Regions from separate parts of the Homo sapiens genome. Here regions 1 and 3 are each linked to region 2. The links come from fine-mapping of genetic effects on gene expression. A gene starts in region 2. Each other region holds a variant in brackets. All regions are shown on one strand. Distances are between the middles of the regions.

Region 1 (2,757 bases), 32 kb after region 2:
GCGCCTCTTCTTAATTAAATTAATTAATCTTTAGGGGTTAATGATGCACATACCATATTAACAAGAGACTATTATGGGAAATTTGTGGGCTTTCCTCAGTACTAAACTGCACTAAAGATGAGACTGCTTAAAGTAAAACAAAACAAAACCCATTATAGCTAATTATTTTGTTTCTTTTTGGCCAAACTAAGATTTTTGGTAGGAAAGATCCTAGAATCTCCCATTTTAAGGGGTAGTATAGAAAGCAAATGCTAACTGCCTTCAGTGATGGTGAGAAAACAAATTGGGCCTCTTGATTATCTAGTTCAGAACTTTTAAGTAAATGAACAAGGCGATACTCTGTTCTTATGGAAATCAACTTTAATGGCCCCATAGATTAATGTTCGTGAGGGACCTGGCACTGGGGTTTGCTAAGGTTTATATAACCCTTGACTTAACCGCCTGGTGGGTTGTGGGTCTGGCAGCATGGGGCTATTCTTCTCAACTTTGCTGTAAAACCATTTGTGTCTTGCCCTTTCCTTTCTAGGAGGTCCTGACTTCTTGGCCTTTTTGTTTGCTTATTTTACTCCATGCCCTCCATTCCTTATTTTACTTTTCTGGCCTCGTTTCCCAGGACTCCTCTTCAAAAAAACATGCTCTTCTTCTAGGCTTAGCTGAAATCTTGCATTTTCAATAAACGTTTCTCATTACAGCTGATCTTTCCTGCTCTGGACGCCATCTGGCCTTCATTCATGTTATCCATGCTAGGGATGACAAACTCAGATCTCGGGCTGGGAAGATACTGCCGGTGAATAAAGAGGGCATGGGTGAGACAATAAGGAGTGGTGAGGTCTGTGGTCATTGGAATGCTTGGTAAATGCATGTAGTTGATTGTTTCTGTTAGGAATGCTGGCCCTCCGATTATTTTCAAGAAAAGCTGAAACTTTAGTTTTTGGTGAAAACTTTAGGTTTCTACCAACACTGTTCAGTCAGAAACAAGCAAGTTTCCCTGCAGCCCAGCTTTGTACCCACAAACTACCAATTTGTAGCTACTGATCTACCATTACAGAATGCTTGCAAGTGTCAGAGCCTTTGGCTGTGTTATTTGGTCAGTATTCTTTTTTTTTTTTTTTTTTTGGTAGGGACAGGGTCTCACTATGTTGCCCAGGCTGGTCTCAAATTCCAGGCCTAAAGTGATTCCCCGACTTTAGCCTCCGAAAGTGCTGAGATTTATAGGCGTGAACCACCACACCCGGCCAGGAGTCTTAACTTGACCAGTGGGTTGTAAACCACTTCAAGTCACAGACTAGATCTTATCCTAATTTGTTATCAGTTTATCACAGTGCAGTATACCTTGTAGACAATAAATATTTGTCAAATTTGACATTTGTTGGGTGCTAGAGGGAAAAGATGTAGACTTGTACTCAAATTAGCTACAGACCAGGATGACATGTGTGAACTAGTAAGGCCGAGAAGCACATGTAAGACCTTATGGGATCACAGAGGTAGGCATGAGTTTCTTCTCTCAGTTAACGTCACGGGCGTTAGACTTCAGAGGCCCACACTGATTATTATAGCTGATTTTTAAGGAGTAAAAATAGGCAATGAGTCTGGGTCCATATATAGCTGTATGTATATAGTATCTCCTATTTTG[A/G]GTCACTGTAGGTTTCCCTTATTTGCATAGATAATGGTCTATGTAAAATTTTCAGAAATGGAAATAACTGGTGACTCATTACTGACTTTGTGAGATACAACTGCCCAAAAGCTTACAAAATGAGCTATTTGTATCATGTTGAGATCTGAGTGATTTTTTTCATTTGATTATTTGCAGAATATGTTCTTTTGCCATAGGGAATATGTGGCTGCTTAGCTTACTGAAGAGAGGTAGCAGCAAGTACAGAACCTTCTCCTGAGTGGAGATCCTTGGATAGGATACTAGAGGAATGATTCCAGTTCAAGATACAATTTTGTCATCTTAATATAAGCCTTTAATGTGCATTATCCGCTTGTTCAGTTGTGGTTTTTGGTTAACAAGGGGAAGCATCACAATACAAAAAAAGGTAAGAACATCTAATATTCTGGGATTTGAACGAAGTCTTATTCTCTTTTATAAAACCTTACAACATGGGAACATAATGTGGTGATTTCATTGGAGCTTGATGTGTACTATGTAATTCCTCAGAAAGTAAAAATGCAGCAGAAACAGTCTTAAAAGCTTAAAGGATTAAATAACTTAAACATTGTTGCATGTTCTTCCTTATTTGCACCCGCTGAAATTTTGAAAGGACGAATCACCTTTTTCCACCTTTTTCTGGTGAGTCCCAAGCAGGCAATTTTTTAACGAGTGGCTGACAGTGCACGTTCTGAGGTTGAGAAAGAGATGAATCGCCAGAGCCCACGGCTCCCAGGCCAGAGCTGGGTGCCCACTGGTGCTCAGAAGTTGGGTTGTTGGATTGCCTCACACTTACTTTCCAGCTGTATTAATGCAGTTTAGCAAACATCTGAAAGCTTAAAATATGCAAAATACTGTGGCGCTCAGGAGTCCAGACAGAATTGAGTAATGGGAAATAGGCTAGCCTGGAAACCAAACCAAGTATGAAAACCTCATTCTTCAGGGAATGCTTGTCACGGATTTAGGACCAATTCCTTCCACTTTGAATTATTCTGTTAATGTTGAAAAATGGAGCCATGGGTTGCGCTCCTCTTCACAGTGAGAGATTTTGTCTGTGTTCGTCAGTGGTCTGTGAGCAATGCTTGCTTTTGGGGATGAAGTGATAA
Region 2 (2,757 bases):
ACCCTTTAATTTTTTTTTTTTTTTTGCCTTTTTTCCCTAAGGTTCAACTTCTCCTCTTTACCTCCCACCCCACCCCACTTCCATAAAACACAACTCAGATTTAATGTTCTGGAGCAAATGTTTTTCAACAGACTTGACCTGCTTAATCTTCCTGACAATGTGCGCAGTTATGTTAGTAATTTGCATACTCTTGGGAAGGGATATGAGACACTAGCAAACCAAAACGCCCAGAGGGCAGCTATATGTTACAGTGGTAATCTTTTTCTTTTTTTCTCAATGTGTGTATGTCTGCTTAATGTTACCACGTACTATCGTAACACACTACTACTATGGTCTGATCTTTAAGAGCAAAAGTTAGAAGCTTTGTTAACTATTATTTCTCCTTTAACTCTGTCTCTTACGAATACACAATGGCTTCTTGAAAATTATCTTAAAAAGACTCTGATTAAAACAAAAACCCAATGACAACAACAAAGCAACCCCTTTATCAAAGGCTGCAGCATTTCTAGAAGTACCCTTCAACTCACTAGCTGGGAAGGAGAGTGCACTTTTTTTTTTTTTTGAGACGGAGTTTCGCTCTGTCACCCAGGCTGGAATTCAGTGACAATTCAGTGACAAGTCTCTGCTCATTGCAGCCTCCGCCTCCGGGGTTCAAGCAGCTCTCCTGTCCCAGCCTCCCGTAGCTGGTATTACAGGTGTGCACCACCACACCTGGCTAATTTTTTTATTTTTCATTTTTAGTACAGACGGGGTTTTACCATGTTGGCCAGGCTGGTCTCGAATTCCTGACCTCAGGTGATCCGCCCGCCTTGGCCTGCCAAACTGCTGGGATTACAGGCGTGAGCCACCACTCCTGGCCGAGGGTGCACCTTTGAGACTAGGTTTCTGCAGCACACATTCATTTTAGTAATCAAGGACATATTGCTGGATTTAGGACGTGAAGAACAAGTCAGGAGCAGATGCTCCAGGCTGCTCGAGGAGGAAGGGGACCACGCCTAATGAAATAACCAAGGATGTCCCAGTCAGGAAGAAATGTGTTAAGTTTTAAACCTGTGTCTTCGCTTTTGGAAGGAACCTGGAAAACGGACGCGGGTTTGCTTCTAATCTGCAGTCCTGCTTGCAGCCTGAGGAGGACGTAAAAAGCCTTGGGGCCAGACAGCCCCAAAACGGGGGCGTTTTACCCTCTTAACTTTCTCTCCCCTTCTTGACGCAGAGGGCGTATCTTCACGCCTCCTTTCCCCAGCCCGCGTTCCCGTTCTCCAACAACAACCTGCGTGTCTCCTTTAAGAGGCGGGGGCCGTCCCTCCCTTTCTCCTCCCAGTCTCCCGCCCTTCACACCTTGGGTGGGAAAAGAGTGTGGGGGCGGGGTAGCCGGTGAAGCGGGAGGGGCGGGATCACAGCGAGCGCTCCAATGGCCCTCGAGGCTGGCCACGGTGGACTCCGGCAGCCAATGAGCAGCAGGCGGGGAGGCGTGGCGGGGCGCTGTTGCAAAGCATCCAACGTGGGCCAGCAGGCGGCCGCGGAGCGCGGAGCCTAGGGGGTGTGTGCGGGCGAGCGGCCGGGGGCGGGGCTTGGGGGACCGGCCGGGGCTGGGCCGCGGGGAGGCGAACAGCAAGCGGCTGATTGTTCGGCTGCGAGGTCGGCGGGACTCTTGCTGCGCGGAGGAGCCGTGCGGAACCCGAGGCTGCGCGCGCGCGCGCGCTCTCTGGCCGCGGCGTGGGGACAGCGAGGCGCACTGGGGCCTCCCAGCGCGGGGCCGGCCGCGCCGTCCAGCCCGAGGTCTACGGCTTTGCGCTCCGAGCCCAGAGGAAGATGCCTGCCGGCACCGAGCTCGGGCTGCGGGGCTGAACGCCTGTCTTCCAGGCGCAGCGGCAGCACTGCCCTCGGCCGGTGTCGGTAGCGGCACTCGGCGTGCCCCGGGCGGACGAAGAGCGCAGGCTGGGTACACCTTGCCCGAATCGGCGGAGTTCGCAGCTAGCGCGGGCGGGCCGGCCGGCCCGGATGGGCGCGGGGTTTGCGGCCCCCGCCGGGTGCTCCGGAGCGGCCCGGGCACCGGGGGCACGCTGAGTGCCGGAGCCGCGGCCGCAGAGAGAACTTGGGGCGGGGGCCATGCCCCGGTGCGGAGTCTAGAGCCGAGCGGAGCGCCCCGCGGGCCCGCCCGCGTCTGCGGCCGTTCGGGTCCTCACAGTCCCCGCGCCCGGAGTTCGCAGCGCGCTCCAGACAAGATGGCGCGGCCGGTCCGGGGAGGGCTCGGGGCCCCGCGCCGCTCGCCTTGCCTTCTCCTTCTCTGGCTGCTTTTGCTTCGGCTGGAGCCGGTGACCGCCGCGGCCGGCCCGCGGGCGCCCTGCGCGGCCGCCTGCACTTGCGCTGGGGACTCGCTGGACTGCGGTGGGCGCGGGCTGGCTGCGTTGCCCGGGGACCTGCCCTCCTGGACGCGGAGCCTGTGAGTGCCGCCCTTTCCGCCCTCTCTGCGCCCCGGGGCTCTGTCACTTGGGGATGGAGCGGCGGGGGTTCGTACTCAGGGAGGGGGTGCGGACTGGGTTGTGTGTGTGGAGTTGTGCGTGCTTGTGCGTGTTGGAAGACTGTCAGGTTGGAGTGGCGGAAGGGAGATTCTGCGTGGAGGTCCGGGGGAGTAGGCGTGCGAGAGAGCCTGGAGAAGAAGAGCGTGCCTCGTGGGGTCTGGAGACGAGCGAGCGTGGGTCGTAGAGATTTGGGGGTTAGCCAGCACGCGTCGTGCGGGCCATCTGGGGGTGAGTG
Region 3 (2,757 bases), 27 kb after region 2:
CCCACCTCTTCATTGTCCTCAGTTGCAATGCCATTTGATATAGGTAGTTCTGAAATACATTGTACGCTTTATTCCCAGGCTGCAGGGATTATTGCTGACATAGACCATGGGTCCTGCAGCCAGCCCCCTGTGTATGGAAATGGAAGAAAAGAAATCAAGCTGTAAAGAATCTCTGTTTTGGGGCTTTGTAGTGGCGAATTACGTGAATAACTGAATTGAAAAGGTGCCTGGTTTATACCATCGTGAATACCCAGGCCTTAGATAAATATTGACACTAGTAGTGTGACGGGCAGGCCTACCATTTGTCTCATGCCCCTAGGAATAAACGATCTTTTCTCAGGTGCTTGTGACCTTATAAACCATCCTGACGAGTTTGTGCAGGTGCTTTCTGCACTAGTTCTTTGAGAGTGGATGGTTTTCTCCCTGTGCTTATGTGAGCTTAAACCTAACCAAATCTAAAGCCACTTTGGCTTATTGATCCTGGTTCACTTTGCCACAAGTAAACGCAGTTGTCAGCACAGTTTCGCAGAGTCATGTTTGTGTAGCCATGCGGACTAGACCTGGGATTGGAACAGCTTTTATTTACTTTGATAATATTTCAGGACTGAGTGTGGTGGGGAGTAAGGAGAAAGGAAAGCCAGTTTGGGGAGACTTAGCTGGAGTACAGGTTGCATCTGATAGCTGAGTGCCTGCCTTTTCCAGCAAACTGCTCTCACCCCCAACCACCACCTTTTGTTTGGTTCCCTATATCTCAGGGCATAGAACAAAACCCACTTAATTTTGTTAGTGTGCAGTATGCAGACGCAAGTCATTCTCCACCCTTCTACCTCCCTACCAATGATAGCATGTTTATTGGAGGGAAGTCATGTTGGAGTCACTTGATTTAGGACAGGCTAGGCAGAGACTTTGACAAACCTCGATTTGTCAAAGGAGTGATTGGTAGAACCTGGGAGATTGTGTGTTCGTTATATAGCAAGTGTTAGGCTAAGTCCTAGCTGTTTTCATAGGGCAGCTGCCTCAATGTAGCTGATCTTGTGGATGTCTCAATTTGGTATGACCAGTGGGCTTGGATTTTCTGTTTGGATGTGAAGATGCTCTGTGAATTGAATGGCTCTTGTCTCTCTCTAGTGCACAGAGAGGCTGTGGAGTACCTAGAAGTACACATGGTGTTTCTTAGATTTCTGCCTGTAACTGAAACTCCAAAAAGAGTTTACTGATAATTGACTTTTGACAAGGCTCTT[A/G]ACCACCTTTGCTGGTGATTGGCTTTAAAAGAAAGAACTCATATTCCACAGGTACCAGTATTCATTATTTGGTTAAGATACAGTTTAGCAAGTGGAATTTGCCGCTAGGGTCCACCCTGTAAGACACATCCTTTGTGAGTAAATGACCTGGACCTGCAAATGGGAGTGGGATGGTTGGGGAGGGGACAGGCGTGTGGTGGGGTGATGCACCCAGCCACATTGAATGTAGATGGGGCCGGGTGCTGTGGCTGACACCTGTAATCCCAGCACTTTGGGAGGCCGAGGCGGGCGGATCACCTGAGGTCAGGAGTTCAAGACCAGCCTGGCCAATGTGGTGAAACCCCGTTTCTACTAAAAATACAAGAATTAGCTGGGTGCAGTGGCGGGCGCCTGTAATCCCAGCTATTCAGGAGGCTGAGATAGGAGCATCACTTGAACCAGGGAGGCAGGGTTTGCAGTGAGCTGAGATCACACCATTGCACTCCAGCCTGTGTGGCAAGAGTGAAACTCCATTTCAAAAAAAAAAAAAAAGAACGTAGATGGACCTTGTGGAAGAGGTGAGGCATTGTTTTTAGGGACTTTGGCGAATGATTTAAAAAAAAGAAATAAAAGTGTGTTGTGGCCTAGTCATTTTCACAGCCAGTTTTCCATTTGACATAGTAAAATTTTAGTATGTTCAAGGATGGAGGTCGCATGCAGCATCTGCTATTTTCTGCTTGTAATTTCAGTGAAAAGGAAGTTCCATGTTTTAATAGCAGCATAGTCTGTGTACAATAATGCATGCTGAAATACTTTGTGGTTTTTGAATCTTGACTTCGTGTCTTCTCAGCCATTTCAACAACCAGAACCAGGGAAATCATCACTGCTCCACGCCTCTAAACAGGGAAAATGATGTGGTAGATGGTCTTTTAAATTTAGAGTGTTTCACGACGTCTTAGTACTGCAGAAAGAAAAACTTAGCCTTTTGGCTTTAGCTAAGCATTTCATGACACACGTAAACTTTAAGAAGCCCAGTGGAAAAAGTGAACAGGACGAGATCCCAAGTCGATAAGCTAGCTATTAAAGTCAGTGACTTCACTGTGGGCCAGACGGCTGACCTTTTAAAACTGTGTGTTTTCTTTAAAATACTTAGCTAGAGATAGTCGCGTGCCTCCCTGTAATACAGCGGATGTATTCTTGAAAAGTTGTGGGTAAATTCGCTTTTCTAATTTGGCTGATTTAATACCAGGGATCTGCTGTCTGTATTTGTATGATCTGCATTGTTTTGAGGCAGCTGAGAAAGAGAGGATAAACCTAGAAAATAATATTGGAAGGAACCTTGTACTTAATCCATTTGTAACGCCGAGCATTGTGGCAAATGCAAGTAAGCATGGATTTTTATATGAGCTTTATAGATTTTGGATGCTTGGGCTTTGCACAGGCACCAGGAGACCTCACAGAGATGTTAGTGAGCTGTGGGTGTGATGTCACACAGTTGAAAAATAAAGGACGTGTGTAAGTTCCAGTGGAGGCTGAT

Direction of the effects. Alleles are on the strand shown, and positions count from the first base shown. SD is a standard deviation of normalised expression in the study named.
In carriers of allele G in region 1, the expression in monocytes after LPS of the gene that starts at base 1,611 in region 2 tends to be lower than with A alone (large effect, 1.0 SD a copy in Quach 2016).
With allele G in place of A in region 3, the expression in monocytes after Pam3CSK4 of the gene that starts at base 1,611 in region 2 is lower (large effect, 0.84 SD a copy in Quach 2016).

Evidence for each region. PIP is the estimated chance that this variant, and not a neighbour inherited with it, causes the effect.
Region 1: its variant is the best candidate, but not a certain one, in a credible set for the expression of LRIG1 in monocytes after LPS (Quach 2016, PIP 0.64).
Region 3: its variant is the best candidate, but not a certain one, in a credible set for the expression of LRIG1 in monocytes after Pam3CSK4 (Quach 2016, PIP 0.69).

Annotation. Positions count from the first base shown.
Region 1 is chr3:66,468,267-66,471,023 of GRCh38, reverse strand. All of the region lies in intron 1 of LRIG1 (leucine rich repeats and immunoglobulin like domains 1), which reads left to right. Among named protein-coding and RNA genes, the nearest start is that of LRIG1, 31 kb to the left of the region's middle. The variant A/G (reference allele first, on the strand shown) is at 1,634.
Region 2 is chr3:66,499,876-66,502,632 of GRCh38, reverse strand. LRIG1 (leucine rich repeats and immunoglobulin like domains 1) reads left to right here and starts at 1,611. Exons shown (of 19, transcript NM_015541.3): 1 at 1,611-2,443. The coding sequence starts at 2,226. RefSeq lists silencers at 1,242-1,901, 1,922-2,061, 2,102-2,181, 2,202-2,411 and enhancers at 1,514-2,014, 2,015-2,515.
Region 3 is chr3:66,473,363-66,476,119 of GRCh38, reverse strand. The region is part of intron 1 of LRIG1 (leucine rich repeats and immunoglobulin like domains 1); the gene reads left to right. Among named protein-coding and RNA genes, the nearest start is that of LRIG1, 26 kb to the left of the region's middle. The variant A/G (reference allele first, on the strand shown) is at 1,242.